Homo sapiens: one gene and its partner. The protein of the gene in region 2 interacts with the protein of the main gene of each other region in a pairwise test. Each region holds a gene or a part of one and is shown on either strand. Other genes may lie near its edges.

What was found.
Region 1: the proteins of FAT1 (region 2) and SH3RF1 interact in a two-hybrid assay, tested with the Homo sapiens proteins (one study listed by BioGRID).

What each region holds. Positions count from the first base shown.
Region 1 is NC_000004.12:169,089,982-169,105,194, reverse strand, and holds the end of SH3RF1 (E3 ubiquitin-protein ligase SH3RF1), read left to right. Parts: intron 1-8,507; coding exon 8,508-8,676; 3' UTR 8,677-10,936; downstream 10,937-15,213. UniProt on the Homo sapiens protein: Has E3 ubiquitin-protein ligase activity. In the absence of an external substrate, it can catalyze self-ubiquitination. Stimulates ubiquitination of potassium channel KCNJ1, enhancing it's dynamin-dependent and clathrin-independent endocytosis.
Region 2 is NC_000004.12:186,702,614-186,718,628, reverse strand, and holds part of FAT1 (protocadherin Fat 1 isoform 1 precursor), read left to right. Parts: intron 1-8,783; 5' UTR 8,784-8,801; coding exon 8,802-12,066; intron 12,067-16,015.

The DNA of each region.
Region 1 (15,213 bases), about 18 Mb from region 2:
AGCAAATTTCTGCTTTGTGGAGGTATTGCTTTTTTGGTAGCATTTTCTATGTTGCCGACTTGAAATCTTACTATAAAGTGTTATGTTTTTAAATGCCTTAAATTCACCTTACCTCTGTATTTCAGATGAAGCCATATGTATATTTGTATCCACCAAAACCTGAGGCCTGCATTCATATTTTTGGCACACTTTTTAACTTAAAAATAAACTGGGAAAAATGGAAAAGAATAAATTTCAAACCTACTTACATTAAGTGCAAAGCTCACAATTTATGATTTTTTTTTTTTTTTTTTGAGATGGGAGTCTCACTCTGTTGCCCAGGCTGGAGTGCAGTGGTGCAATCTTGGCTCACTGCAACCTCCATTTCCCGGGTTCAAGTGATTCTCCTGCCTCTGCTTTCTGAGTAGCTGGGATTGCAGGCACACACCACGCCCGGCTAATTTTTTTGTATTTTCAGTAGAGATGGGGTTTTGCCATCTTGGCCAGGGTGGTCTCGAACTCCTGAGCTCAGGCAATTCACCTGCCTCGGCCTCTCAAAGTGCTGGGATTACAGGCATGAGCCATGGAGCCCAGCCACAATTTATGATATTTATTTTTATAGTGCTGTACAATAATTTTCTATAGTTCTAACCCCCTAAAACCAGTTTTAAAATGAGCCATTACCCTAAAAAAGTGTTCTCTCCCTACAAATGAAATCATTTTATCTTTCCTCTCATCTGTTGTGCTCTTAGTAAAGCTTTGAAATTTTGTCCAGAATTCACTGAATCTCTTACTCTAAGAGTCAACCTTTTTCCTGCTGTATTGGTCTGCTTTCCAGGGATAGCACCTTCTGTCCCTGGAGTTGGTCCAGTTACTTGTTTGCTTTCTCTTGGTCACAAAGCCTCCCTCCCTCCCTCCAGGCATTGATCTGCAGTTTTCCTTCAAGCCCTGAGGGCATCTCTCCTGTGTTCCCTCTCATTTGTGGTATTTGTGTGACTCTTTTGAGTGATGGTTCACTTTGCCCAGACTCTCCCTAGGCACTGGCATGGGCACTGCAGCCTCCCTCCCCCAGTGCATTCCTTTTCAGTTGCCAGATGTCCTCAGTCTCTACGGCTTCTGCATTCCGGTCCCTTCCTCTTAGAGGGGCTCCTTTCTAACAGCAGGCTCCTGCTGTTCAGTTCATCTGAAAAGAAGGAATTGCTAGCTCAGACAGGTGATGGCATTTCAGGGAGCGGGGGATGCACATCAGATAGGGAACATGGAGAATGTAATGACAGGACAGATGGGCCTGGGCATGCTGGAATTCTTTGATAGGTTTTTTTGTATAACCATTTAAATTTTTACAAGTGGGAAAGGGGTCTTTGGAGAAGATTTCTACCCAAGTTTATATTTTTATAATCCATATGTTCAATGGAATATTAAATATAATAGCCAATCTGACCAACTTTCCACAGCCTTTGCTTTCATACAGTGATGGTGATAGTATTTATTTACCTTGGATTCTTAGATCTGTCTCACAGTAAAAATAACAGGAAAAATGTGCGGTAACATATAGGAAAATGTTATATTATTCACTGGGAATGAAAGTTTTTGATTAATTAAAAGCCACCAAGTATAGAATTTAGGGATTACTTGTGTTCATATTTTAAACATTTCAACACAATAAAAAGTGCTCAATGCTGAAAATGAAGGAAAGATTAACTTTTATATCAGTATGATTGAGAAAACATTTCAGAATCTAAGAATAATCCTTGATTTACAATACAAGCATCAACAACTCTTGCCCTGGCAAAATGCAGAAGGAGCCCAGGGTTCCTTTGGTAAAAATTCTACTGACTGGTAGAATTTCACAGAAGTATTTTTCAATTTATATTATTGGGACACTATGAGGTAGGATTCATCTACAGATTATAATGAGAACAAGCATAAAATTTCCTCTCAAACCATGACCCTATCTCATACATCTAAAGTAAAAGAATGTGCCAGGCATGGTGGCTCATGCCTGTAATCCCAGCACTTTGGGAGGCCAAGGTGGGTGGATCACGAGGTCAGGAGTTCAAGACCAGCCTGACCAAGATGGTGAAACCCCATCTCTACTAAAAATACAAAAAAAAAAAAAAAAAAAAAAATAGCCAGGCGCGGTGGCGGGCACCTGTAATCCCAGCTACTCGGGAGGCTGAGGCAGAGAAATGCTTGAACCCGGGAGGTGGAGGTTGCAGTGAGCCACAGTCGCATCACTGCACTCCATCCAGCCTGACAGAGCGAGACTCCATCTCAAAAAAAAAAAAAAAAAAAAAAAAGAATGTGACTGGGGCAGCCGGTGCTGTCAATGGAAAGAAGCAACCACGTGGTATAAAGACTTAAGCAATCTCATAGTAAGAAAGGATGAACCTTGAAGTGTGTTGACAGGTCTTGGTGTCAGCAGAGAGAATTCTCTTAGGAACAAAAGGATTCTTCTGTGTTTGTTAGAGAGACTGAAGAAAACAAGCAAGAAATAGTGCTATATCCTGGAGGCAGAAAATGTATAATTGATGACAGCAGAAACAATAGAACAAATATATTAGGCTCTATTTTAGAGGGATTGAGAAAAAAATAATTAGGAAATTGCAAAGAGAAAGTGGAAAGAAAATATTTCAGAAGGGATGGCAAATAAAAGAAAGTATATGACAGGTTTTTCTTCCAAAGAAAAAAAATATATATATAAAGAGTTCAGGGAGACACAGCAAGTCATCTTTATCTGTGTGTATTTTTAAATGTAGGAATTAAACTGAGAACCACATACCTATAAGCTCATCTCCTAAATTGGGGGAAAAAAAAAAATCTATGTATGATCTTTGATCAGGGATTAAGCTAGAACACTTGGAAACATACAAATTGGATAGAGATAGATTTACAGAAAGGCAGCTGGGCTTAACCAGCATGATTAATTTCTTTGAATCAGTGACAAGGAACCCACTGGGTGAAGCAATGGACGTAATTTACTTGGACTTGGAGCAAGCTACAAAGGGAACTAGTATGGTTATGCCAGTGAAATACTTAATTGAATATTAGATTGCTGTGGCAACTGGTAGAAAGCAGTAAGTGGTTACTCACCCAGGTCAGAGTGATGAACTGAGTGCCTCCCAGAGCAACATGGGAGCCAATTTGGGCTATACCAGGGGCGATTAGAAATGAAAATGTATGAACTACAGAGAACACCAGAGAGGCTAGAAAAATAAAGGAAACAGGAAATGTATACTAATAAAAGATTGTAAATGCCCATTCAGATGGAAGTTAAAATACCATAGCATTGGAAGTCTGTGGAGCTTCTTTATATTGCAAGACTCTGTTTCTTGAATTGTACCTTGGCAGTTATCACCAAAAGTTGAGTTAAGGTCACACAGCCACCAAGAGGCAGAGGCCATTCAGGGACCGGTCTGTGAGCCACTCTGGTCACCCCATAATGCCTCCACAGCGCTTTGTTCAAAGGGAACAAGGGGTGCTTTCCAACCAAGGTGCCAGTCAGCTTTATACATTTTTCCTTTCTTTTTTTTTTTTTTTTGCCTTTTTTTTAAACAAAAAATTTTATTCATTCATATATCTTATTTTTTAAATTGTGGTAAAGTATACATGAAAATTTACTATTTTTTCAAGTGTACAATTCAGTGGCATTGAGTACATTCATGTTGTCATACAACCATTCACTGCTATCCGTTTCTAGAACTTTTTCTCATCCTAAACTGAATCTGTACTCATTAAGCACTAACTCTTCATTCCCCCTCCTCCAGGCCCTGCAACCACCCTTCTACTTTCTCTCCCCGTAAGTGACTTCTGGGCATCTCATAAGTGGAATCATGCAATAGTCTTCCTTCTGTGTGCATGCAGCTTATTTCACTTAGCATAACGTTTGCAAGGTTCATCCCTGTTGTAGCACGTGTCAGAATTTCATTCCTTTTTAAGGAGCTTTGTACATTTTAAAAAACAGTTTTTCTATACAACTAGGCTTTTTCTTTTTGCCACTTGACATGCTTATTAAGAATTAAAGGTACTATGCTAAGTCCTATGAGGCATATAAAGTGAATTTAGCATCATCTCATCCTTCAAGCAGCTTATGGTTTGGTAGAATAAACGAGACGGACACAGATGGTAATAATACATTGTAGACTGTGCTAAGTGCTGTAAGACATATACATGGAGGCCTCTGCGATTTAGTCAAGCATGAAATTGCCTCCAGCCATGGGGCTGGAGATTTCACAGGGGAGAACTGGAGCCAGGCTTTGAGAGAGTGATAGGGTATGGGTGGGAGAGATAGCGTCAAAGGAGACTCCCACTAGAAGGAACTGCATGAGCCAAGGTGTGGCGTGGGGGAAGTAAAGGCCCTGAATAGGGGACATGTTCAGGCTTAGGGGAGTGTTTGGGACTTTTGTGGTGATAGTAGTAGCTACAGCTGTGTAAAAAGAGATTAGGGCCTGATCACCAAGGGCTTCGCATACCAGGCTGAGGATTAACCTTGCTCACAGGCATTGTAAAGCTGTTAATGATTTTTTGGCAGTGGGTAGCTGCAAATAGAGTTGCCACTTAAGAATATTAGTATGTGAGCTCTGCATAGACTGGGTTGGGGACAGGAAGAGACTTGAAGGAGGCCAAGGTGGGTGGATCACCAGGTCAGGAGTTAGAGACCAGCCTGGCCAATATATTGAAACCCTGTCTCTATTGAAAATACAAAAATTAGTCGGGCATGATGGCACACACCTGTAATCCCAGCTACTCAGGAGGCTGAGGCAGGAAAATTGCTTGAACCCAGGAGGCGGAGTTTGTGGTGAGCTGAGATCGTGCCATTGCACTCTAGCCTGGGTGACAAGAGCGAAACTCAGTCTTAAAAAAAAAAGATATTTGACGAGGTGGAAGGTAATGAAGTCATCAACCAGGATAGTGACAGTGACAATGAAGAGGAGTGGATGGGATGCAGATTTTGAAGGTAGATCAGCAGGTCCCATGTAGGTCATGGGAGAGTATTCATTGACCCCTGAGGTTCAGAACTTCCCCAAACCCCTGTTCATATAAAGAAAAGCATAATCCGAGTGAGGCAGAGGGTGGAGCAGCAGATGTAAAGGGCCTCTGCAGCTGTGCCTTACATCTGTTTGTTGGTCTGTAAATGTTCTACTTGGCAAAGCCTTTCAATGCCTGAAATAGTTGGCCAGTTATGCCCAGTATTTGGCCTTACAAATCTGTATTAGAAAACTGCAAACCACCTCACAAGGCTCAAGATCAGGACCTGAGCTGGAAGATTTCTAAGTAGAGTCTATTACTCCTGCACCTGGTAGTCTTCATACGATCAAGACTGTGTCACAGTTTCCATTATGCACATAGTTTCTCATTCCACCCGCCCCCCCAGAGGTTTATAAAACTTAGCAATGAAAATTTGCTCCCACTGGGAACTTGGCAGGAAGAGTATGTTCTTAGCCCAGCAGCAGTTCTAGTTCAAAATTTTTTTTTGACAAAATTGGTTTAGTGCATTTTATAAAATGCATATATTAATCTAATTCACTTCAAGTTTTTCAATAACCATTTTTATTCCATTTCACCTTTAAGGCAGCTCACAGAGAACAAGTAGGGAATATATCTCATGAGAAGTCTACTCTGAATATGTTTTGAGTCACTTGTACATTTTTTCCCAGAATTATAAAGCTTTGCCTTAAATGTTTAACTTGCCCCACATGGCAACTACATCATTGCTTTTTCATGGATTTTTAGCATGTTGACATTAGACTTGAGAAATGTCATCTGGATCCTTCTTTCAGATAAATTCATGATGAAATTATTTGTCTTGCTTTTAAAGGTGTCAGAGAGCTGGGCATAGCGGCTTATGTCTATAATCCCAGCACTTTCTGGGGCTGAGGCTGGAAGATTGCTTGAGCCAAGGAGTTCAAGACCAGCCTGGGCAATATAGTGAGATGCCATCCCTACAAAAAGTAAAAAGATTAACCAGGTTTGGTGGCACACACCTGTAGTCCCAGCCGGAAGGCTGAGGTAGGAAGATCAGTTAAGCCTGGGAGGTCAAGGCTACAGTGAGCTGTGATTGCATCACTGCACACCAGCCTGGGCAACAAAGTAAGACCGTCTCAAAATAAAGATATCAAAGAAGGGATTCCAAAACCCTAACTGTGTTGATCTAAAGTTTGTCAAATCTCATTTTCAGGAAATGAGGCCTGAGTTGTGGCCTGAGTTCGTTTCCTAGTTAGAGATGTCCAGCCACTGACTGGCCCATTCTTCACCTCCTTGAAGTGCCAGGCCTCTGCCTACTCTTGTCTAAGCCATATGATCATAATGGGAGCTAATATTTTCAGGTTGAACTCTTTGTCAGACACCATACGAAGAGCATCATACTTGTTTAACTCATTACAGTCCTATTCTACAGATGAGGAAACAGACTGAGAGCTGAGATAACTGGCCCAAAGTTAAGCTGCTCTAACTGACCTTAAAGACTGTGTCAATCCTTAGGCCAGTGTTTCTCCCGCTGTGTCATGCTTCCTTCCTCATTCCATGCTTGATCAAACCCCAGCCTTGTGGTCTATGAATATTCATGTTTGAATTAGCTGAACCTTTCTCAGATATGATAAGCCAACTTCTGTGCTGTGCTTTTGCTTCAGATCTTGGGTAGTAATTTGGTCCCTGTGCCAAAGGAGCTCAGGTTGTTCAAGCAGCCACTTACCTTTTGCAGAGATGTGTTTTTTTAGTGTAATAGTCTGGGACTCTTGCTGTGGTCTTTCTTAAATGGATTTTGGTTTATATGGAATGGGAATTGGTGAAAGGGGCAGGCTGTAATAGGTTTCAGAAGTTTGGGGACAGTTGTATAGAATTTGTTCTGCCTATCATTTTGAAGCCATAATATTTTTCACTTTCAGTCAGGAGTGGGTCCCACGAGGCTATACACTCATTTTCTGACTTTGAGAACCAAATGAAAGTAGAAACCCAAAATCAACTTTATGACTGACTACTCATTACTTAGCATCAAACAGTGAAAGATGTATTTATTAGATATCTGTTGCCATGTAACCAGTTACGCCCAAAAGTCAGTGGCTTAAAACAATAATAAGCATGTATTATTTCACACTTTCTGTGGGTCACATAATTATGGAACAGCTCATCTGGTTGGTTCTGGCTTAGAGTATTTCTTGAGATTGTAGTCAAGACATCAGCCTGAGCTGATGCTCAACTGGGGCTGGAGGATCCCCTTCTAAGATGGCTTATTCACATCACTTTTTCTGGTTAGTTTAGGCTTTTGGAAAGAGGCCTCAGTGCCTTACCATGTGTTTCCTCTCCATAGAGATGTTGAGTGTCCTCACAACATGGCAGCCAGTTTTCCTGAGTGACCGATCCAAGAGAAAGTAAAGTGGAAGCCATAATGCCTTTTATGATCTAGCCTCAGAAATCACCCACTGTCATTTCTGCAACATTTTATTGGCCACACAGGTCATCCTGTGCATCATAGGAGGAGACTACACAAGAGTGTGAATACCAGGAAGCAAGGATCACTAGGGCCATCTTGGAGGTTGGCTACCATACACCACCATTCTTTTCCCCCCTTTTGTTGAGAAGAGGAGTAATGCAAATAATGCTGGAAAAATAGAGAAAGATAAAAGGATATAGAGTGTAAAACAAGTCACCTCCCTCTCGTTTCCTACAAGCTGTAATTCTGCACAGGAAGGCTAAGGAGCATGGAGGCAGGGGCACAGATAATATTAAACCAACTAAGCTTCTGCCATTTTTAAGCGATAATGACACCTTTCCCACTAACTCCAAATTCTGAGCCAAGGAGAAACAGACCCAAATGTCAGAATAATAGAGATGAGAATGTCAACCTCGTTACTGGTAATGTTGGATTGAACTTGTGGCCATAGCCCTCCCCTCCATGTCTGGACCTTGGGACTACCTTCCCAAGGGATAATCTGGGTATGTGGGGCAGATTACCTTCCTCAGAATTGCTGCCTCGCCCATGTCAAACACCAGTGTAAGGGACGTAGGGACACAGAGACAGACTTCCAGACTCACCTTCCTGACCTCTGTGTGCTTACAACATAGAGGTGGAGCAGAGCCTCCTTAGCCTGTGGGCAGGCGGTTCAGAGAGGACTGAACCCCCCCTGCTCAGCTACTTCTCCCAGTCTCACCAATCAAATAAATTCACTCCTGTTTCCTTGGAGAAGAGGGAGGGATAGAAATGATACCCCTCTCGGGAAATGAAATGAAACTCTCCTTTATGGCCAAGATACAAACACTGGTAGGGAACAAGGATGGCTGTCCTTGTTAAGGTCACTCAGATGAACCAGTCTGGGCCATCAGTAGTGGGTTGACACACATATCCAAATCCAGTCTTTGTTAGTACTAAGTCTCTACTAAACAGAAAATAGCAGTATTTTGAGTTGTTTTACAATCATAAATGAATTAATGTTATTTCCTATTTATGTTGAAGGTTCGTGCAGACTAACAGTACACCATTTTTTAAAATCACTGCTTTGAATCGCCTTAACCAAAATCTCTTTCTTTTCTAGGCACAGGGTGGTGGTTTCCTATCCTCCTCAGAGTGAGGCAGAACTTGAACTTAAAGAAGGAGATATTGTGTTTGTTCATAAAAAACGAGAGGATGGCTGGTTCAAAGGCACATTACAACGTAATGGGAAAACTGGCCTTTTCCCAGGAAGCTTTGTGGAAAACATATGAGGAGACTGACACTGAAGAAGCTTAAAATCACTTCACACAACAAAGTAGCACAAAGCAGTTTAACAGAAAGAGCACATTTGTGGACTTCCAGATGGTCAGGAGATGAGCAAAGGATTGGTATGTGACTCTGATGCCCCAGCACAGTTACCCCAGCGAGCAGAATGAAGAAGATGTTTGTGTGGGTTTTGTTAGTCTGGATTCGGATGTATAAGGTGTGCCTTGTACTGTCTGATTTACTACACAGAGAAACTTTTTTTTTTTTTTAAGATATATGACTAAAATGGACAATTGTTTACAAGGCTTAACTAATTTATTTGCTTTTTTAAACTTGAACTTTTCGTATAATAGATACGTTCTTTGGATTATGATTTTAAGAAATTATTAATTTATGAAATGATAGGTAAGGAGAAGCTGGATTATCTCCTGTTGAGAGCAAGAGATTCGTTTTGACATAGAGTGAATGCATTTTCCCCTCTCCTCCTCCCTGCTACCATTATATTTTGGGGTTATGTTTTGCTTCTTTAAGATAGAAATCCCAGTTCTCTAATTTGGTTTTCTTCTTTGGGAAACCAAACATACAAATGAATCAGTATCAATTAGGGCCTGGGGTAGAGAGACAGAAACTTGAGAGAAGAGAAGTTAGTGATTCCCTCTCTTTCTAGTTTGGTAGGAATCACCCTGAAGACCTAGTCCTCAATTTAATTGTGTGGGTTTTTAATTTTCCTAGAATGAAGTGACTGAAACAATGAGAAAGAATACAGCACAACCCTTGAACAAAATGTATTTAGAAATATATTTAGTTTTATAGCAGAAGCAGCTCAATTGTTTGGTTGGAAAGTAGGGGAAATTGAAGTTGTAGTCACTGTCTGAGAATGGCTATGAAGCGTCATTTCACATTTTACCCCAACTGACCTGCATGCCCAGGACACAAGTAAAACATTTGTGAGATAGTGGTGGTAAGTGATGCACTCGTGTTAAGTCAAAGGCTATAAGAAACACTGTGAAAAGTTCATATTCATCCATTGTGATTCTTTCCCCACGTCTTGCATGTATTACTGGATTCCCACAGTAATATAGACTGTGCATGGTGTGTATATTTCATTGCGATTTCCTGTTAAGATGAGTTTGTACTCAGAATTGACCAATTCAGGAGGTGTAAAAATAAACAGTGTTCTCTTCTCTACCCCAAAGCCACTACTGACCAAGGTCTCTTCAGTGCACTCGCTCCCTCTCTGGCTAAGGCATGCATTAGCCACTACACAAGTCATTAGTGAAAGTGGTCTTTTATGTCCTCCCAGCAGACAGACATCAAGGATGAGTTAACCAGGAGACTACTCCTGTGACTGTGGAGCTCTGGAAGGCTTGGTGGGAGTGAATTTGCCCACACCTTACAATTGTGGCAGGATCCAGAAGAGCCTGTCTTTTTATATCCATTCCTTGATGTCATTGGCCTCTCCCACCGATTTCATTACGGTGCCACGCAGTCATGGATCTGGGTAGTCCGGAAAACAAAAGGAGGGAAGACAGCCTGGTAATGAATAAGATCCTTACCACAGTTTTCTCATGGGAAATACATAATAAACCCTTTCATCTTTTTTTTTTTCCTTTAAGAATTAAAACTGGGAAATAGAAACATGAACTGAAAAGTCTTGCAATGACAAGAGGTTTCATGGTCTTAAAAAGATACTTTATGTGGTTGAAGATGAAATCATTCCTAAATTAACCTTTTTTTTAAAAAAAAACAATGTATATTATGTTCCTGTGTGTTGAATTTAAAAAAAAAATACTTTACTTGGATATTCATGTAATATATAAAGGTTTGGTGAAATGAACTTTAGTTAGGAAAAAGCTGGCATCAGCTTTCATCTGTGTAAGTTGACACCAATGTGTCATAATATTCTTTATTTTGGGAAATTAGTGTATTTTATAAAAATTTTAAAAAGAAAAAAGACTACTACAGGTTAAGATAATTTTTTTACCTGTCTTTTCTCCATATTTTAAGCTATGTGATTGAAGTACCTCTGTTCATAGTTTCCTGGTATAAAGTTGGTTAAAATTTCATCTGTTAATAGATCATTAGGTAATATAATGTATGGGTTTTCTATTGGTTTTTTGCAGACAGTAGAGGGAGATTTTGTAACAAGGGCTTGTTACACAGTGATATGGTAATGATAAAATTGCGATTTATCACTCCTTTTCATGTTAATAATTTGAGGACTGGATAAAAGGTTTCAAGATTAAAATTTGATGTTCAAACCTTTGTATGTCCCTTGTGTCAGTCCTTAAAATTTTGCTTTTTAAAAAAACAAAACAAAACAAAAAACACGGGACACATTTGACCTAATTTGTACCTCACAAAAATTCTTTGCATACATCTCAAGCGGAAGATGTCTACAGGAATCAATTTGGTGATTATGACACATTTTACCTCTGCAACTAACAAACCTTGTTTATTTCTCCAAGAAGCTTAAAAAGAGTTTGTGGAGTCGCACGAGGTCATGTATGGCACTTGTGTTCCCCTCTTCCTCTTCCAGTTACTAAAATAATCTGGTGAGTGCTAGTTGTCTTAGCCATAGAAGGAAAAGCAGACCTATCAACCAATAGTATGATAACCCGTAAGTCTCAGCATGGCTTGGGGACAAAATCTTTAGATTCACCATGGTTTTAATTTCCCATGAAATGAAAGGCCCATGTAAGTCATGTTAAAAACTATTTTCTTATTAACTTTTGGCTACTGTCAAATGACTTATCAGAATTGAAAATCAGGAATTCTAGGTTGTATTGTAGCTTTTCCAAAAACTATCTCTGTAGCCACCTGGGCAAGTTGATTATTACTTAGTTTCCTCCTTTTGGTGTCCCATCTACCCCACTGGGTGAGGATGAGGAGCAAAGGAGATAATCTCACTGTTTTTGAAAAGTGCTATTTTAATGTGTGGCATTAAGTTTATCTCTGGTTTCAAATATTCATCTCACTCTCTTGGAGTATATGATATAATGCTTTTCAGGGTCTGATTGGTTTTAGAAGGAACAAATTAAGGTGATGTTTCCAACTGCTATGCATTTAACTTTCTGTTCCTATAATAGAACATATTTGCATACCTCCAGAAGAACATTCAATTCTCTGAATATTTCAATCCAGAGCTATAAACAACATTAGAATTCGGCTTTGGAAATTGTGTTTAATAGATGTTTGACTAAGTTTAATAGATGTTTGACTAAGTTTAATAGATGTTTGACTAACAACTCTTTGTGTGTATTCATCAAATTTTTAAAAATGTGTTTTGAATCAAACTATGTCATTATCAATGTCACATCCTATTTAAATTACTTTTTTTCCAGGAAAAATAATTAGCAGCCTACCAAAATCAATAAGATATTTATAAGAGATTAGTCATGTCCAGGCAAAGGGGTGTAGCCCTCGCTAACTCCCTGTGGCTGCAGGCTGTAATGGGGTATGCTGGGGAACTTTGCCCTGTCCATTAGTATCACCAGAGGCAGGAAGGAGCTATTAGAGTGAGTAGTCACCTGCCAATGTGAACAGCGACAGTTTTAAAATACCTTCTCTCAGGTTTACAGATGAACATCCCTTGGATTCCTTTTGTGTTTCCTACTAATAAATTTCTGATTTGGCTACTTTTCCATTTCAGAAACACCACCTGCATCTCACTCAGTGCAAATTCTTACTGTACTATGGCCATCCAGGCTCTGTAACCATGCTGCAGGCACCTGCGAGTGGCATTAATCTTTGAGTCCCATTCAATACTATTATAGAGTCAGACTATTCTAATAAGTCTCCAAAGATAATGGAATTATCCCAGCCAGTAACCAGTGAGCCAGCTGCCACTTCTATTGCCTACACCTTAGATACGAAATTTGGTTCCAAGAGGTCTCTGACCTTGGGGTTGAATCTTTCAAGCTCTGAATCCTTGTGAAAGTACTAGAAGAAGCCATGATAGACTTTGGCATGAGAGGGCATTCCTAAATATGATTCAAAATTTAGAAACTGTAAAAAAAAGAAAACCTTGATAAATTGTACAAAATATCAAAATAGTTACATGACAAAACACCATAATCAAAGTCAAAAGAATAAACAATGAAATAAATCATTTGTAAGTCCTGTAGCAGGCAAAGAGATAATTTCCTTTACATATAAAAAAAAACTTCTACAAATAAGAAAAAAAACCCAAAGTAACACTAACCAAGGATTTGTGACAGAAATTGCCAATTGTCGTGGCCGAGCGCGGTGGCTCAAGCCTGTATTCCCAGCACTTTGGGAGGCCGAGGCGGGTGGATCACAAGGTCAGGAGATCGAGACCATCCTGGCTAACACGGTGAAACCCCGTCTCTACTAAAAATACAAAAAATTAGCCGGGCGTGGTGGCAGGTGCCTGTAGTCCCAGCTGCTCGGGAGGCTGAGGAAGGAGAATGGTGTGAACCTGGGAGGTGGAGCTTGCAGTGAGCCGAGATCGCGCCACTGCACTCCAGCCTGGGAGACAGAGCAAGACTCCGTCTCAAAAAAAAAAAAAAAAAAAAAGAAATTGCCAATTGTCTCTGAATATTTTCATTTTCTTTTTTCTTATTAACTGATATCTGGGCTTTGTGCTTAGTTAAAAAGCTCATTTTTGTCAGGGTGTGGTGGCTCATGCCTGTAATCCCAGCACTTTGGGAGGCCAAGGCAAGCAGATCACCTGAGGTCGGGAGTTTTGAGACCAGCCTGGCCAACCAACATTGTGAAACCCCGTCTCTACTAAAATACAAAAATTAGCCACCTGTGGTGGTGCATGCCTGTAGTCCCAGCTACTTGGGAGGCTGAGGCTCAAGAATCATTTGAACCCGGAGGTGGAGGTTACAGTGAGTAGAGATCGCCCCACTGCACTCCAGCCTGGGCCGCAGAGGCAGACTCAGTCTCGGAAAAACAAAACAAAAAAACTCATTTTCCAGTCTCCCTTAAGGTTAGGTGCAGCCTTGTTACTAAGTTCTTGCTGAGACACAAATGAAAATATCACAGGGAACTTCTGGTAAGGCTTCTTAAAAGGGAGAGGAGGCCAGGCGCAGTGGCTCACGCCTGTAATCTCAGCATTTTGGGAGGCCGAGGCGGGTGGATTGCCTGAGGTCAGGAGTTCAAGACCAGCCTGGCCAACGTGATGAAACCCTGTCTCTACTAAAAATACAAAAATTAGCCAAGCATGGTGGCACACGCCTGTAATCCCCGCTACTCGGGAAGCTGAGGCAGGAGAATCACTTGAACCCGGGAGGCAAAGGTTGTAGTGAGCCAAGATTGCACCACTACGCTCCAGCCTGGGCAAGAAGAGCAAGACTCTGTCTCAAAAAAAAAAAAACTTAAAAAAAAATTTTTTTTTAGTTTTTTTTTTAATAGTTATTGTGAGAACATAGGTGACTGTTGGAAACAGAATGCTTGTTCCCAGGTACTACAAGGAAAAATCAGCATTCAGACAAAAAGTTCTCTCAGCAAGGCAATTTTACTTTCTGCAGAAAGGGTGCTCTTAGCAGATGGAACAATGGCAAGAGCACCCTTTCTAAATAAAAGCAATTTATTGTAGAATTGTAGAAAGTAAATATAGTTTCCTCTTCAAAGTTTCCCTTCTTGTTAAAGGATAATAATAAATCATAAATGTTAGAAATAATTTAAAGACTAACTTCCTCCAAGCCTCCTTGCTTTGTGCTAATAACTCTTTGTTAAGCCCTAGCCTATGTAGCTGTTAGACATGCTCACAAGGCACATAAGACATTCTATGTCTTTGTACCTTAACCAAGATATTTGTGCTAGACATGCTCACAGGCACGTTCCAGCTTGCAGCTTATGCCCCTTCCCTATTTGGCATAAGCAACTTCCTCTTTTCCTTCGTTCTCCCTTGCCTTTACCTATTTAGGACAGTTTTAAATTATTAGCCAGTCAGGTTTTAGTTTAGATTGTGCGGTCTGGCTCCAGCCAGTGGACACAGGACACAGTAGCAGGGACAAGCTGCGTAAGGGATAAAAATTGCTTCCCTCCTTTGTTCAGGTGTGCTCTCGCCATTGTTCCATCTGCGAAGAGCACCCTTTCTGCAGAAAGTAAAATTGTCTCACTGAGAGAACTTTTTGTCTGAATGCTGATTTTTCCTTGCAGTACCAAGGAACAAGCATTCTGTTTCTAAATAAACGTTTTACATATAACAGTGACTTTTAAGATGCAAGAGATGTACTAATTTGTTGGAGAAAGAAGGAAGGAACATGATACCCTAGTAAACTTGAGCCTTCATGCCAGCCTGAACTACTCATCTTTAAATATGATTTATTTGAGAATAAACCTCTTGAGTCCAAGCTACTGTAGTCTTAGCCACCACCAACCTGACTGGTATCAATATAAACTGACAGTTCATTAAAAATATATTTTTTATGTAAATATTATTTCTATATTATTTATATATATATACACTAAAAGATGTTCCACCTAATTCGTAATGTAAATGCAATTAACAACAATGAAATACTTTTTACCTATAAAATGGGAAATTTCTAAAAATTTGAAATGTTGGC
Region 2 (16,015 bases):
GTGGCGCAATCTCGGCTCACTGCAAGCTCCGCCTCCCGGGTTCAAGCGATTCTCCTGCTTCAGCCTCCTGAGTAGCTGGGACTACAGGTGCATGCCACCACGCCCGGCTAATTTTTGTATTTTTAGTAGAGACGGGGTTTCACCATGTTGGCCAGGATGGTCTCAATCTCTTGACCTCATGATCTGCCCACCTCAGCCTCCCAAAGTACTGGGATTACAGGCATGAGCCACCGTGTCTGGCCAAGCTTATTTTTTAAGTAGGAGAAGAACCTGTGTGTGTGTATGGATTCTGCACAAGGTGTCAGGAGTGGGAGGAGCTGTAGAAGAGGCAGGATTTTGTGGTATCAGAGTATCTTTATTTGCAGCTAGGGTGGGTGGCATCTCTTCTGAGGTGTAAGAAGAGAGAACAGGTGAAGAGAACATTTTAAGAGGAGGAGGGAAGATGGACTTTTCTCCCTGAAGATTTCCGTTTTCTTGCTGTACATGGAACATTCACTTTCCTGGTCTGTCATTTAGTGAAGGGTTGACCGAATCTAATTATACAGGGAGCCCAATTCAACGTATAAAATAAAGTCTTACTTACCAACTTGGGAGTGGAAGAAGTGGCCATTGTTGATTATTGGCTACTCTGCCAAGATGTCATTTAAATTACTTCTGTTTGTGGAGAAAAATACATTAGATGAGATGATCTCCATTCACAAGAGGTCAACAGTCCATTGAGCTTCTCCTTGGGCAAAGTTTGTCCTGGAATGTGGATGAGGAGAAAGTGGTTGGAGGATAAGGAATATATAGAGAGGGGAAAGAAGAGAATAGCACAGGAATGCCTCACCCTGCCAGAAATAGACACACAGCCGCTGCCTACCTGTCCTGTCTTGTCGTTCCCAGGAGCACAGAACAACTAGAACCCGTCATCTTCGTAATGCCAACAGACATGTTTTATAGGTTCATGTAGATAACTAGGTTTTATATAGAGGCTGTTTGAAAAATAGGACATCTGTTTATCTTTCTTAAGGGCAGGAACACTTCAGGAATCTATTTTGGATTGATTAAATCATGTACATGGTGAAGTTTTCTGAAAAAGCCAGATTGTAGTTCCACACTGTCATTGTCAGTAAAGACCATTCTCAGGGTTAAATTGGAACCGGTGGTTGATCATGTGAAGGCAATATTTAAAGTATGTCTTGCTAGAGTTACCAGATTATTGCAGCCCCAGTCAAAGATAACAACATATAAATGGAGTTAGCAGAAGTGATTAAATGACATATACCAAGCCTAAGGCTGCTGCTCAATTTCTAGGGTCACAGCTTCCTCCGTTCATGCTGAAAATCATATGAAGATGGGTTGAAAAGAATTAGTGTACACCCAGAAAATAAACAGGATCTACTCATTAGTATTTCAGTGTAAGGATGAAAGCTTTTAAAAGTACCGACATGGCTATGATAATTGAACTAGAAAAATAGAGAGTTTTTTTTTTCCTGTTGTAAATTTTATTTGGAATGTCTGAAATTTTAGAAATCATTCAACATTCTTTTTAATATACAGTATTTTTAAAAAGCCATTTACGCTGGGTGCGGTGGCTCATGCCTGTAATCCCAGCACTTTGGGAGGCTGAGGTGGGTGGATGACTTGCAGCCAGGAATTCGAGATTAGCCTGGCCGTCTCTACTAAAATACAAAAGTTAGCTGGTCATGGTGGTGCATGCCTGTATTCCTAGCTACTCAGGAGGCTGAGGCATGAGAATCGCTTGAACCCAGAAGGCAGAGGTTGCAGTGAGCCACGATTGCACCGCTGTGCTCCAGTCTAGGTGACAGAACAAGACTGTCTCCAAAACAAACAAACAAACAAAAAAACTCGTTTACAATTCATAATCTCTTGACAACTTCATGATCCTGCTTTGAAAATGTGTTTGCCGGCCAGGCCCAGTGGCTCACAACTGTAATCCCAACATTTTGGGAGGTCCAGGCAGGTCGATCAGTTGAGCTCAGGAGTTCGAGACCAGCCTGGGCAACATGGTGAAACCCCATCTCTACAAAAATACAAAAAATTAGCTGGGCATGGTGGTACGCCCAGGTACCCCGGAGGCGGAGGCGGGAGGATCACTTGAGCCTGGAAGGTTGGTGCTGCAGTGAGCTATGATGGTGCCACTGCTCTCCAGCCTGGGAGATAGAGCAAGACCCTGTCTCGGGGGAAGAAAGATGCTTGCAATTTAGAGATCTCTTAAAAATACTTTAAAAATGTGACACTGAACTGAACTCGAAATTCCAAATTTTAATCATGAGTTAAATTCTACTGACGCTTTCACTATGTTGATAGAAAATGAGAGTGGAGAAGAGCACAGTGAGGGAGAACACAGAGTTCTCAACTTAATAATTTTGTGTTTTTATCATAACATGTGAAATGAAAAGTTTAATAATGTCCTGTTCCATAAAGGCTAGAATGACTACTTGTGCTTGTAAGAATTGTGACCGCTCAGTAATAAATATGCGGCGTTTAACAGAATTGGTGCATTGTGTGATGCTGTGTCTCACCTAATGTCCTGTCTCTGTGGCGTGTGAAACCCTTCGAAGACTTGAGCTTGAGGTCATCTAAACACTTGAATATATGCAGTTAGGTTTTCAGCACAGGGGCTGTGTTCTGTTTTGTGAAGAATGTGCAGTCACAGTAATTGATGGAAGCATTTTACATGAAGGTCTCCCTAATGAAGAAATATGAAGATATTAATATCTGATTTTTACTGCAAAAGTTATTTTTCTGCCGTATTTATAGATTTTCAGAGATCTATGCTAAAGATATTTAAGCTTTAGACTGGGAGCCCTTCTCCTTCAAGGCTAGACTAAGTAAACACTCTTTGTTTTGGCTTCGGAAAATGCATTTTAGAAATCCCAAATTGCAGTGAGTTTAAGTAGTGTGATCACCTTCTAAATATCAAAGTATAGCCCTTGGCTCAGATGGTCTTTGGAGTTTAATTTCCATAAGCAAAGGAGTCTAGGCGATAAGGTCCTTTTTAGATGAAATGGTGTTGGAGTCTCTCCCCGCTTCAGCTTTACTGTTTGTTTTGCATGAGAGCCACAGCCATTGTTTTGATCAGGGTGGTTTTTATAGTGAAACCTGAATTCGTGGTTCTTGGTTACATTACTGCACGGTTAACAATGTCTTCCAAAAAGTGTATTTTTTCATTTAATAATTTATTCTACTCACAGTAGCATTCTGTTAGCCAAGTTTGCAGAGTACATTCAGGTTTTTCAAAGATTTCAGTTAGGAATGTGGTCCACAAGTCCGTCCCAGCTGTATTGTGTCCCGTGAGAACTGCTGAGTAGGATGTGGAAGGTAATTGCATGTTTGGGAATCCAGTTGGGGATGAGTGGGTGGTGGTGGGGGCTGTGGTGGGACTGAGCACCTGGGACAGCATGGGGAGAGAACAGCCAAAGCAGTCTGACGTGTTGGCCATGGTCTGTGTGTCTTAGGGGATGGAACAGTGCCAGAGCCTTCTGGTGGGGGGATGGAGGGGGAAGCAGCGTGGCGCATCAGCAAGTACTTTTTTTTTTGTTTTTGAGACAGAGTCTTGCTCTGTCACCTAGGCTGGAGTGCAGTGGTGCGATCTCAGCTCAGTGCAACCTCCGTCTCCCTTGTTCACGCGATTCTCCTGCCTCTGCCTCCCAAGTAGCTGGGACTACAGGCGCACACCACCGCACCCAGCTACTTTTTGTATTTTTAGTAGAGACAGGGTTTCACCATGTTGGCCAGGATGGTCTCGGTCTCTTGACCTCGTGATCCGCCTGCCTCGGCCTCCCGAAGTGCTGGGATTACAGGCGTGAGCCACCGCGCCCAGCTGGATTAGTGAGTATTTATATTATATAGAACTCCAAGTTCTAATGTTAGGCTTCAGCTGTAGAAAAATCTTTATTTACTCACTGTTTCTTATCACACCACTATGCTGTGGTTCCCTTTCCTCCCTCAGTGGCCGACATCTCCCCTGTCAGGGCCTCCCGTTTGGACCCTTCAAATCTTGGGGTTCTGCTCTTGGATTTTTTTTTTCTTCTGCCTGCTCTCTTCCTTGGTGATCTCATTCAGTTCTGTGGTTTTAAATACCGTCTTTCATATTTAGACAACTCTCAAATTTCTATCTGCCGGCTGGAGTCTCCCACATATCTGCTGCCCACTCACAATCTTTACTTGGATAGCCCGTAGCTGTTCCCATCTTACCCTGTCCAAAACTGACCTCCCGATCTGCTCCCTGAGGCTGCTTCTCCTCCTGTCTCCCTCTCGGTTCCTGGCCCCCTTGTTCTCTACGCTGAGCAGTCTTTGGCATCTTCTCTGGTACTGTTCTCTCCTCCTTTCCCTCCCTCTCCCCACTCCAGCATCAGGCAACCTTGAAATAGATTCACAATCTGCCCCCCACCCCCGTTGTGCCCCAGCCCACACGCGCTCCACCTGTGTTGTGGCTGCAGCCTCTGACTGCTCTGGTCGCCCTCCAGCTTCTGCCCTGGCTGCCCACAGGTTTTTCCATTTTACTGAGACCGTGGCACTCCTCGGTTCAGAATCCGCTGGGGGACTTCTCATTTGATTCATACTAAACTCTAAAGTCCTAAAAATTGTCCTTTATCCATGAGTCCAGACGGATCTTGAGAAAAAAAAAGATTCAGGTTGGATGCAGTGGCTCACACCTGTAATCCTAGCAGTTCGGGAGGCCGAGTTGGGCAGATCGCTTGAGCCTGGGTGTTTGAGACCAGCCTGGGCAACGTGGTGAAACCCCGTCTCTATAAAAAATACAAACATGAGCCAGGCGTGCTGGTGGTTCCTGAGTATGTAAAATTCTGTCAGTCTAAATCTACAGACGCACCTATAGTCCCAGCTACTCAGGAGGCTGAGACGGGGGCCCGGAAAGCTCAAAGCTTCAGTGAGCCGTGATCGCGCCACTGCACTCCAGCCTGGGTGAGAGAGCGAGACTCTGTCTAAAAAAGAAAAAAAATTGAATAAATAAATGGAGGAAGATAGACAAATCAGTTTCTAGAAGAATTATAAATATTTTGAGTAGCGAAACTCTCTGTCTCTTAAGAATGGGCTACATGCAGTGACTTCCTTACCAAGAATACAGTACAGGGAGGGGTGAAAGTAACCTGACTGTGAGGAAACCTGGCAGATACTACCTCAGTCACGTGGTCAGGAGCAGCGTCAACATCGATAAATCGTGTTGATTTTACCCGCTTGCTACGGTGTGGTGGAAACGACTCTACCTCTGTGGCTTTTCTCCCCAAAACAGAACCCCAATCTAATCAGGAGAGAAACGTCAGATTCCAGTTGAGGGACATCCTACAAAATACCTGACTAGTACTTCTGGAAACTGTCCAGATCATTAAAAGCAAGGAAAATCTGAGAAACGTACATTCCAGAGGAGCCTTAGGAGACATGACAGCTAAATGTAAGGTGGTGTCTTGGAAGGGATTCTAGGATGGAGAGAAGGCCTTGGGTAAAATGAGCAAATTTGAGTGAAGTATGGACTGTAGTTGATGATGTGTCAGTACTGGTTTGTTAGTTGTATCTAGTATAATGTACTAAAGTGAGATGTTAACAGTAGGGGAAGCTCTCTTTGCAACTTTTCTGTAAGTCTAAAAGCATTCTAAAATAAGGTTTATTTTTAAAAAGAACCCCCTTCATGATAGGTTCTCTCCCAGGATGTGCCCCGGCCTTACCGCTGTCCCTCAACCGCTGTGCTCCAGCCACGTGGTCTCTTTCTGGCTTCCCTAATCTAGTGCTTCTCTGCGGGGTGTGACTTTCTGCCCTAGAGGGTGTTTGGCAATGTCTCGAGATAGAGGTATTTTTAGTCATCACAGCTGGGTGATGAGGGGGATGCCACAGGCTTCATGCTGGTGGGGACCAGGAATCATATTGAACACTCTACGTTTCCCCAAAGAATCTAAGAGTTGCCCAGCATGTCACTAGTGTAAGCCCTGACCCTTTGGATTTAGGGTTCCCTCTTTTCCTTCAGGTTCCTGACCCTGGTCTCTCTTTGCCCTGCTTTAGTTTTCTCCTTAGCACTTAATTATCAGCATCGGATATACTCTGTTTACTTGTCTGTCTGTGTCTGGCCAGGAAATGTATCTTCCATCAGGACTTGTTGGTAATTTGGTTCACTTTTGAATCCCCAGCGTCTAGAACTGCACCTGATACATAGTAGATGCTCATTAAACCTATGTAAAAGGAATTAAATAATTAATGAAAGGGGTGAGTGGATGATAAAGACAACACATACTCATGCTAAAAAAAAACCACAGTAGAGAAAAATGCCACAGTAATCATTCCCTCAGCTACCTGTTTCTCTACCGGTTCTCCAGAAGTTACCACTGTTAACAGTTGCTTGTCTGCCTAGACTTTTCTGTCCATTTTAAAGTATATCCGTGGGTACATTGTATCTACCCCCCTTCTCCTCTCTTTTAAATAAACATAAATAGGATCAGCTTCGTTTTTCCAGTTTATATAGCTAGACATATGTCAACATACAGAGTGCTATCTTTTAATGGCTGCATGATAACTTTATACGTAGAATTAAGCAAAAATACTTCTAGTACTTGCAATAGAATCCTGGTATAATATTTTGTTGTACAATGGATGATGGTAAAAATGTCTCCTAAAACATAATGTGACTCCTAAAACAAAAGACACTGCTTGCTAAACATCATCCAAGTGTTTCTGGTTTTGTTTTTTTGTTTTTGAGACAGAGTCTAGCTCTGTTGCCCAGGCTGGAGTGCAGTGGCGCGATCTCGGCTCACTGCAATCTCTGCCTCCCGGGTTCAAGTGATTCTCCTGCCTCAGCCTCTGGAGTAACTGAGATTACAGGCTTGCTCCACCATATCCTGCTAATTTTTGTATTTTTAGTAGAGATGGGGTTTCACCATGTTTTGGCCAGGCTGGTCTCGAACTCCTGAGCTCAAGGGATCCGGCTGCATTGGCCTCCCAAAGTTCTGGGATTACAGGTGTGAGCCACCGTGACCAGCCTCTTTATATGTATTTTTATTTCTAGTTTGTAAATCCCTTGGGATTGGGATCTTTGTCTTTTATTCCTTAACACCATGCAAGGTTCTGTCTGATAAGGTCCTCCATACCTGTAGGTTGAACTTTTTATTTGTTTTGATAAAATTACAAGATTATTTTATAATATTCAAATTTCCCTGAGTATTAGAACTGTTGACTAAATGGAGATACTTAAAGAGATAGTTTTGGGAGAAAATTGTTTTCTTATTTTGTTTAAATGATAATTGTTCTCCTAGAAGCCAAAAATCTGTCTAATTTCTGACTTTATCTGGAGAGGAGAAGGCATCATAGCTAAAGAACAAGTTAGGGTGGCCAACTTGAACGTGGTTCAATATCAATTAAGCTTTAATTGCTTTAAGCACATCAGGTCTTTTTTTCCCCCTAAGGCAATGACTTATGGGGCAGAGTTGGCAGTAGCTAAGTTAAGATACTATAAATTAATGTTGTCGTACCAATTTCAACTGGGCTGTCAAACCCACCCTCCAGTTTGCTCTTCATTTACCTCTGGTAGCATTCACATTTTGTGAATATTAATTTGAGAGTCACTTTGCAAGATGACAGTGCTGTCCTTTGTGAAGCTGTGTTGATTTACAAGATGAATTTGTTGGCAAAGGGGAACAGTTGATCTGAAAATAACTGTCCTGCTTCCCTGGCCAGACCTCAGCCCAGTGGACTTCGCCCACCTTCCCATTTGTCATTGTTAAAGGCAACGTTTTCTTCATTTCTTCAGTTTCTCTCTTTTCTCCGCCAGTCACCCAGGGACTGTCCTGCAGAGTCTGCCACCATGTATTAATAGACTGATTTGACCCTTGACGTGTGTTAGCTTAGAAGATTTAGCTTTTGTGTGTGTGTGTCATCTTCTCATGGAGGGGCCCAGGGTGACAGGTTGTTCGATGCCCTGAAGATAGGAGACATTCTGTGAACAACTGGTTGTTGACAGCAGTGGTGATAAAACATTGATATAGTTGGTAAAGTTTGCTTCACTGACTTAGAGAGGAAAAATGCTGTTTGACATCAGGCTGCTGAATTCTGGTTTTTCTTTTGTAAATTGCCTTTCTTTGGGGCTTATGTTGCTGATAAGTATTATACTTGATATAATTATTTTAATACTTTTAAGTAGTTACATAGAGCGAAATGAGACAATAAACCCTTACATTATGTAGGGAGTGAACTTAACCATTCTTATACAGAAATAATATAATTTCAGGATACATTTTGAAATGAGATTACAAGCTGTTCTTATGGAGCGCCATGTAAAACCACTGCTGGTTTTTGTTTTTTTCTGAATTAGTTGTCAGAAGCTTTGCATTCTCACAATACTGTAGGGGCATTATGTTTGCCAGCTTTTGATCATTTAATTCATTGTATGTAAGTAAATGTAAACAATGTTCATTAATTTTTAACAGTTGCTTATATTTGCCTTAACGATTTAAATATAAAAATATAACTTAGTTGTTACAGTTAGTAGCCTTTCATTTGATACTCATGAAGATTTTTGAGTCGTTTAAATATGAAAGAGAGGACCTTGTCGTTCAAAAATGAAAAGGAAGTTTTTGTTAAGCTTAATAATTCTAGACATGTTACAAGAATGTTGATACTTATATTGGAAAACATGAAAAACATCCCAAACCGTTGCATTTATTTATATTCCATGTGTATGGAAAATATTTTTTTAATGAGAAGTTTAAAACAATGTACACACTTTTGCTTGTTTTATTTCCCCAAGGTAACGATTCTGATTTCTTCTGTTTCAGATTCCCGACAGTTAAGCAATGGGGAGACATTTGGCTTTGCTCCTGCTTCTGCTCCTTCTCTTCCAACATTTTGGAGACAGTGATGGCAGCCAACGACTTGAACAGACTCCTCTGCAGTTTACACACCTCGAGTACAACGTCACCGTGCAGGAGAACTCTGCAGCTAAGACTTATGTGGGGCATCCTGTCAAGATGGGTGTTTACATTACACATCCAGCGTGGGAAGTAAGGTACAAAATTGTTTCCGGAGACAGTGAAAACCTGTTCAAAGCTGAAGAGTACATTCTCGGAGACTTTTGCTTTCTAAGAATAAGGACCAAAGGAGGAAATACAGCTATTCTTAATAGAGAAGTGAAGGATCACTACACATTGATAGTGAAAGCACTTGAAAAAAATACTAATGTGGAGGCGCGAACAAAGGTCAGGGTGCAGGTGCTGGATACAAATGACTTGAGACCGTTATTCTCACCCACCTCATACAGCGTTTCTTTACCTGAAAACACAGCTATAAGGACCAGTATCGCAAGAGTCAGCGCCACGGATGCAGACATAGGAACCAACGGGGAATTTTACTACAGTTTTAAAGATCGAACAGATATGTTTGCTATTCACCCAACCAGTGGTGTGATAGTGTTAACTGGTAGACTTGATTACCTAGAGACCAAGCTCTATGAGATGGAAATCCTCGCTGCGGACCGTGGCATGAAGTTGTATGGGAGCAGTGGCATCAGCAGCATGGCCAAGCTAACGGTGCACATCGAACAGGCCAATGAATGTGCTCCGGTGATAACAGCAGTGACATTGTCACCATCAGAACTGGACAGGGACCCAGCATATGCAATTGTGACAGTGGATGACTGCGATCAGGGTGCCAATGGTGACATAGCATCTTTAAGCATCGTGGCAGGTGACCTTCTCCAGCAGTTTAGAACAGTGAGGTCCTTTCCAGGGAGTAAGGAGTATAAAGTCAAAGCCATCGGTGGCATTGATTGGGACAGTCATCCTTTCGGCTACAATCTCACACTACAGGCTAAAGATAAAGGAACTCCGCCCCAGTTCTCTTCTGTTAAAGTCATTCACGTGACTTCTCCACAGTTCAAAGCCGGGCCAGTCAAGTTTGAAAAGGATGTTTACAGAGCAGAAATAAGTGAATTTGCTCCTCCCAACACACCTGTGGTCATGGTAAAGGCCATTCCTGCTTATTCCCATTTGAGGTATGTTTTTAAAAGTACACCTGGAAAAGCTAAATTCAGTTTAAATTACAACACTGGTCTCATTTCTATTTTAGAACCAGTTAAAAGACAGCAGGCAGCCCATTTTGAACTTGAAGTAACAACAAGTGACAGAAAAGCGTCCACCAAGGTCTTGGTGAAAGTCTTAGGTGCAAATAGCAATCCCCCTGAATTTACCCAGACAGCGTACAAAGCTGCTTTTGATGAGAACGTGCCCATTGGTACTACTGTCATGAGCCTGAGTGCCGTAGACCCTGATGAGGGTGAGAACGGGTACGTGACATACAGTATCGCAAATTTAAATCATGTGCCGTTTGCGATTGACCATTTCACTGGTGCCGTGAGTACGTCAGAAAACCTGGACTACGAACTGATGCCTCGGGTTTATACTCTGAGGATTCGTGCATCAGACTGGGGCTTGCCGTACCGCCGGGAAGTCGAAGTCCTTGCTACAATTACTCTCAATAACTTGAATGACAACACACCTTTGTTTGAGAAAATAAATTGTGAAGGGACAATTCCCAGAGATCTAGGCGTGGGAGAGCAAATAACCACTGTTTCTGCTATTGATGCAGATGAACTTCAGTTGGTACAGTATCAGATTGAAGCTGGAAATGAACTGGATTTCTTTAGTTTAAACCCCAACTCGGGGGTATTGTCATTAAAGCGATCGCTAATGGATGGCTTAGGTGCAAAGGTGTCTTTCCACAGTCTGAGAATCACAGCTACAGATGGAGAAAATTTTGCCACACCATTATATATCAACATAACAGTGGCTGCCAGTCACAAGCTGGTAAACTTGCAGTGTGAAGAGACTGGTGTTGCCAAAATGCTGGCAGAGAAGCTCCTGCAGGCAAATAAATTACACAACCAGGGAGAGGTGGAGGATATTTTCTTCGATTCTCACTCTGTCAATGCTCACATACCGCAGTTTAGAAGCACTCTTCCGACTGGTATTCAGGTAAAGGAAAACCAGCCTGTGGGTTCCAGTGTAATTTTCATGAACTCCACTGACCTTGACACTGGCTTCAATGGAAAACTGGTCTATGCTGTTTCTGGAGGAAATGAGGATAGTTGCTTCATGATTGATATGGAAACAGGAATGCTGAAAATTTTATCTCCTCTTGACCGTGAAACAACAGACAAATACACCCTGAATATTACCGTCTATGACCTTGGGATACCCCAGAAGGCTGCGTGGCGTCTTCTACATGTCGTGGTTGTCGATGCCAATGATAATCCACCCGAGTTTTTACAGGAGAGCTATTTTGTGGAAGTGAGTGAAGACAAGGAGGTACATAGTGAAATCATCCAGGTTGAAGCCACAGATAAAGACCTGGGGCCCAACGGACACGTGACGTACTCAATTGTTACAGACACAGACACATTTTCAATTGACAGCGTGACGGGTGTTGTTAACATCGCACGCCCTCTGGATCGAGAGCTGCAGCATGAGCACTCCTTAAAGATTGAGGCCAGGGACCAAGCCAGAGAAGAGCCTCAGCTGTTCTCCACTGTCGTTGTGAAAGTATCACTAGAAGATGTTAATGACAACCCACCTACATTTATTCCACCTAATTATCGTGTGAAAGTCCGAGAGGATCTTCCAGAAGGAACCGTCATCATGTGGTTAGAAGCCCACGATCCTGATTTAGGTCAGTCTGGTCAGGTGAGATACAGCCTTCTGGACCACGGAGAAGGAAACTTCGATGTGGATAAACTCAGTGGAGCAGTTAGGATCGTCCAGCAGTTGGACTTTGAGAAGAAGCAAGTGTATAATCTCACTGTGAGGGCCAAAGACAAGGGAAAGCCAGTTTCTCTGTCTTCTACTTGCTATGTTGAAGTTGAGGTGGTTGATGTGAATGAGAACCTGCACCCACCCGTGTTTTCCAGCTTTGTGGAAAAGGGGACAGTGAAAGAAGATGCACCTGTTGGTTCATTGGTAATGACGGTGTCGGCTCATGATGAGGACGCCAGAAGAGATGGGGAGATCCGATACTCCATTAGAGATGGCTCTGGCGTTGGTGTTTTCAAAATAGGTGAAGAGACAGGTAAATATGTTTTTATTGCTCTCATTTGATGCCCTTTTCCATTTTTTTTTTTTTTTTAACCATCTGCCCTGTGGCAGCTTCTTCAAAATTCCCTGTTGCTCTTTGGGCTCGGTATAGAAGTGCGTGTGAATATTTTTTTTGGCCCGGCTGCTGTATTGTAGATGTGTTTATTCGTAGTAAGCCATGAAGATGGAAACAAAAGGGCCTGAGTGATTTAAGTGGCGTAAAGTGAGTAAAAGACCAGGGATACATTGAAATTGTTATCACTGATACTGATCTCCAAACTCTATTTTGAACTCTATTATCAAAAGCATCATTATGGTTTTGTTCTGACTTTGAGAAGTCTTTCCAACTTTTTTCAGTCAGTGTATTTGCAGGCTCATACTTAGAACAACTACTGCTACCATCTGGCGTGCCATTCAGAGGTTGTTGCACACCGGCAAAGTTACCCAGTGCAGAGATGATGTGCCAAAACTTCTCTAATGTGGTCTTCACTTAGTACCTCGTCTAGGTTTTGGTCGAGAGGCAGAGGCGGGGTAGTGGCATGCTGAACTGAGAAGACCTGGCTTGGAATCCTGGCTCTTCTAGTTGGTAATTGGTGATCCTGGACAAGCAAATGACTTCTTAGAACTAACTTTTTCCTCTTCTACATGGGGACACTTAGAAATACCGGAAGGTTTAAGTGAGAGTAAAGTGAAATAACACGGGAAAACTCCTGACGTGTGGTAGGTTTATTCATGGTAGCAGTGCTTTGTTGTAATACTGAAGGTTCTGAAACCGGGACCTCCAAGGCAGCAGTCCAAGCTAGAAAGTGCGTGTGTTGCACTTTGTACATACCTCAGTCTTGCTGCGCAGATATTGTAGTTATATGTCAATATGTCCTGGTGGAGTGTGAGCCTTTCGGGGCAGGCTTTTAGCCCCTGCATCTTCTGTGTTTAGCACCTAGCAAAAAGTGCCTGGCACATAGAAGCTGGTCAATCAGTGTTAAAAGACTGCAGGAGTAAATGAGCGAATGTGTTGGCTTTTCATGTCCTGCCCTCTGAGAATGATAGTGGAAATAGAAAAGGGGTGATCATAGCACTCATCAGCAATAGGTGGGGCTCAATTTGTTTACTAATCTCACCCATGTGTACTTTATAAATCTGTGCATTTTAAAAGGGACCTTTTTAAAATTACCTTTAAACTTTATATATTCAGTAATACCACACACACAAAAAAACAAGAGAGTCTTCAGTCAACACCCACCCTGGGATCCATGCCATCTGATAGGTGTGTAGCACATGAAAAATGTAACTGCTGTTTAGAAAAACATTATTTTGGGCTGGGTGCGATGGCTCACGCCTGTAATCGCAGCACTTTGGGAGGCGCAGGTGGGAGGATTGCTTGAGGCCAGGAGTTCAAGACCAGCCTGGGTAACAGCAAAACCTCGTTCCTACCAAAAAAAAAAAAAAAAAAATGCTGGGGTGGTGGTACACCTGTAGTCCCAGCTACTTGGGAGGCTGAGGTGGGAGGATGGCTTGAGTCCAGGAGGTCGAGGCTGGAGTGAGCTGTGATTGTGCCGTTGCACTCCAGCCTGGGCAACAGAGCCAGACTATCTCAAAAAAAAAAAAAAAAAAAAAGTTATTTTGGAAGTTGTAATATATTTTTTGTGCTTCTATTAATGCAAGGAATTCTTTCTCTGTTGGTTATGTGCCACTAGCATATGGCCTATGTATTAAGTCTACAGACTATATATCACTATCTAAAATACCCATAATTAGTTTATTTCAAGAGAAACTAGCATAATCAACAGCATTTGATAATCCTCTGAAGAGTAGAATGTCTTTTTTATCATTTTATCTGTCCAGTATAAGTTAGAATTTTCAAATACTGTTTCAACATAGAAAAATACCCCAAATTTAACAACTGAAGCTGAGTCAAACTGTTTTTGTAAAATTTTTGAAGAACAGTTATTCCTACTTTTTTTCCTTCTCCAAAGTAGGTTTCAAAAGCCTATAAAGAACTGTTAAAAGTTAAAGTTGAGACAAAATGGAACCAAAACCTTAATTTAAATTCTCTTCATGACTTTGTATGAACACTGCCTTTTGGGTTTTTTCTTTCAAGTGAAGAAGAGTATTTTTATTGTTGCTTTTTAAGGAATCATTTCGAAACTAGTATTTTTCACCTACACATTTAAGAGATTGGGATATTTTTACTACCAAGAAAAAAAAAATAAGGAAACAACCAGCCAAACGAGGTGGTGTCCCAAAATAGATTTATGGTATTTTCCAGAAAGGGCAGTGCCAGACTTTTCCAGTAGTAATTTAGTGGGAGGCGGGGAGGTGTTGGGATTGTGGGCAGTGTGGTTGGTAAGTATATAAGAAACTGTGTGTAAATATTGAGATTTAAAGGTGAGAGAGAAGCTGGAAATTTGTAGGTCATTTATTCTGTGGTCCTTGCTTTACAGAGAAAGTAAGTAGTGTACAGTAGACTTACGTTTATATGCTTTTGGAAATGAACAAAAGTGATAGAATAATATTTACACATTGGACCTCGTATTCATTACAAGATACATTTTTTGGCAGAAGAATTATCAGCCCAAGTTATTTCTTCAGAGATTCCTGGCAGGACAATTGGTATCACAGTGTAGAAACTCCTTTAGGAAAAATCAGTATATTTTGTTGGCTAAAATTAGGCATGCTAATTATTCACTTGGAGTGTGTCTTAACTAATTTCTAGGGCATGAAGGAAGTGTGGAAAGATGCGTGTCAGGTGAAGAGATGGAGGGGCAGTTGAGGAACACCCGTGGGGGCTGCCAGAGACTGCACTACAGCTTGGTGTGCCTTGGCGTGCACCCGGCCCAGGCCAGGCTGGTGCTTGCTGGAACTTCGCTCCTTGCCCATTGCCCATGTCCACCAGGGTCTTCTTTGCCTAACTCGGGGGCATTTAATATTGCGCTAATTAATATGAGCCTGTGCAGGAGTGCTGTGGCTCTGGGGACCAACAACCTGTCCACGTAACTGTTTGCTTCTTGTCTTTGACTTAAAGCTACTAGTGTTGGTTGAGTATTATAACCAAATTTTTGTCATATTTTACCTATTTCAACCTAGTCAAATATGTGTATCATTTATATACTTTTCACAGAACAGAGAACCTATCCAGCAAGCTGAATGAAGTTCTATTTTAAGATCTTTCCTTTTCTTCTCTTTAAATCTGCTTAAATTGGAAACATCCTCTGAAACGTAGTTTTCTGTTTTTGTAGAAGTAGAAATTCTATGGACTACCTAAAAATCTGTCACCAAACGGACAGTCCTGTTAGCTCTGTGTTCTTAGCTCCGTGGTTTGTACATGTTCTGCAAATGGCTTTGCAGCGAGAGAAAGCGTAGTGGCAGAGTGGGGATGGCGGGCGTGGACTCTGCAGGTCTCACGGTATCATCTGCCCTTCCTGGAGAGGCCTCTGGATGTTGGTGAACTGTTCTGACAGATCCATGCCACGTGACTGCCCTTCCATGTGAGGTCTGGAAGGGGAGAGGGCCATGTGAACAATTATTTGGAAAGTCGGTCTCGTTAGAGAGCCAGTTTCCAGAGCTCTAATTAAGATTCTCCTCCTCAGATTGCTATCTGTAAGGTCTACAGTGAGGATTATAAAGTAGATTTAACAAAGATGTTTAGCGGAGTAAAGATCTTTGAAGCATGTGTAATCCCACATTCAGGGTTCGGTCTGCCTGCCATGCGTCTCAGCATCCAACCCCCTCTTCTACTTCAGATCCATTCTCTGTTGCTTTGTTGTAAGCTTCAACAGGTTTTCCTGTAATTTAAGCAGAATAAAATCTGGAGCATCCCTCTTGTGGGTGTGTGGAATAAATTTGGTGTAGTGTTCTTAGCTGATGTGTACTTAGCAAGTTAATTATTACTTGAGCACCAATGAAATGCTGCAGCTTTTTGTTCATTTTTAAAACTAAGGGAATGT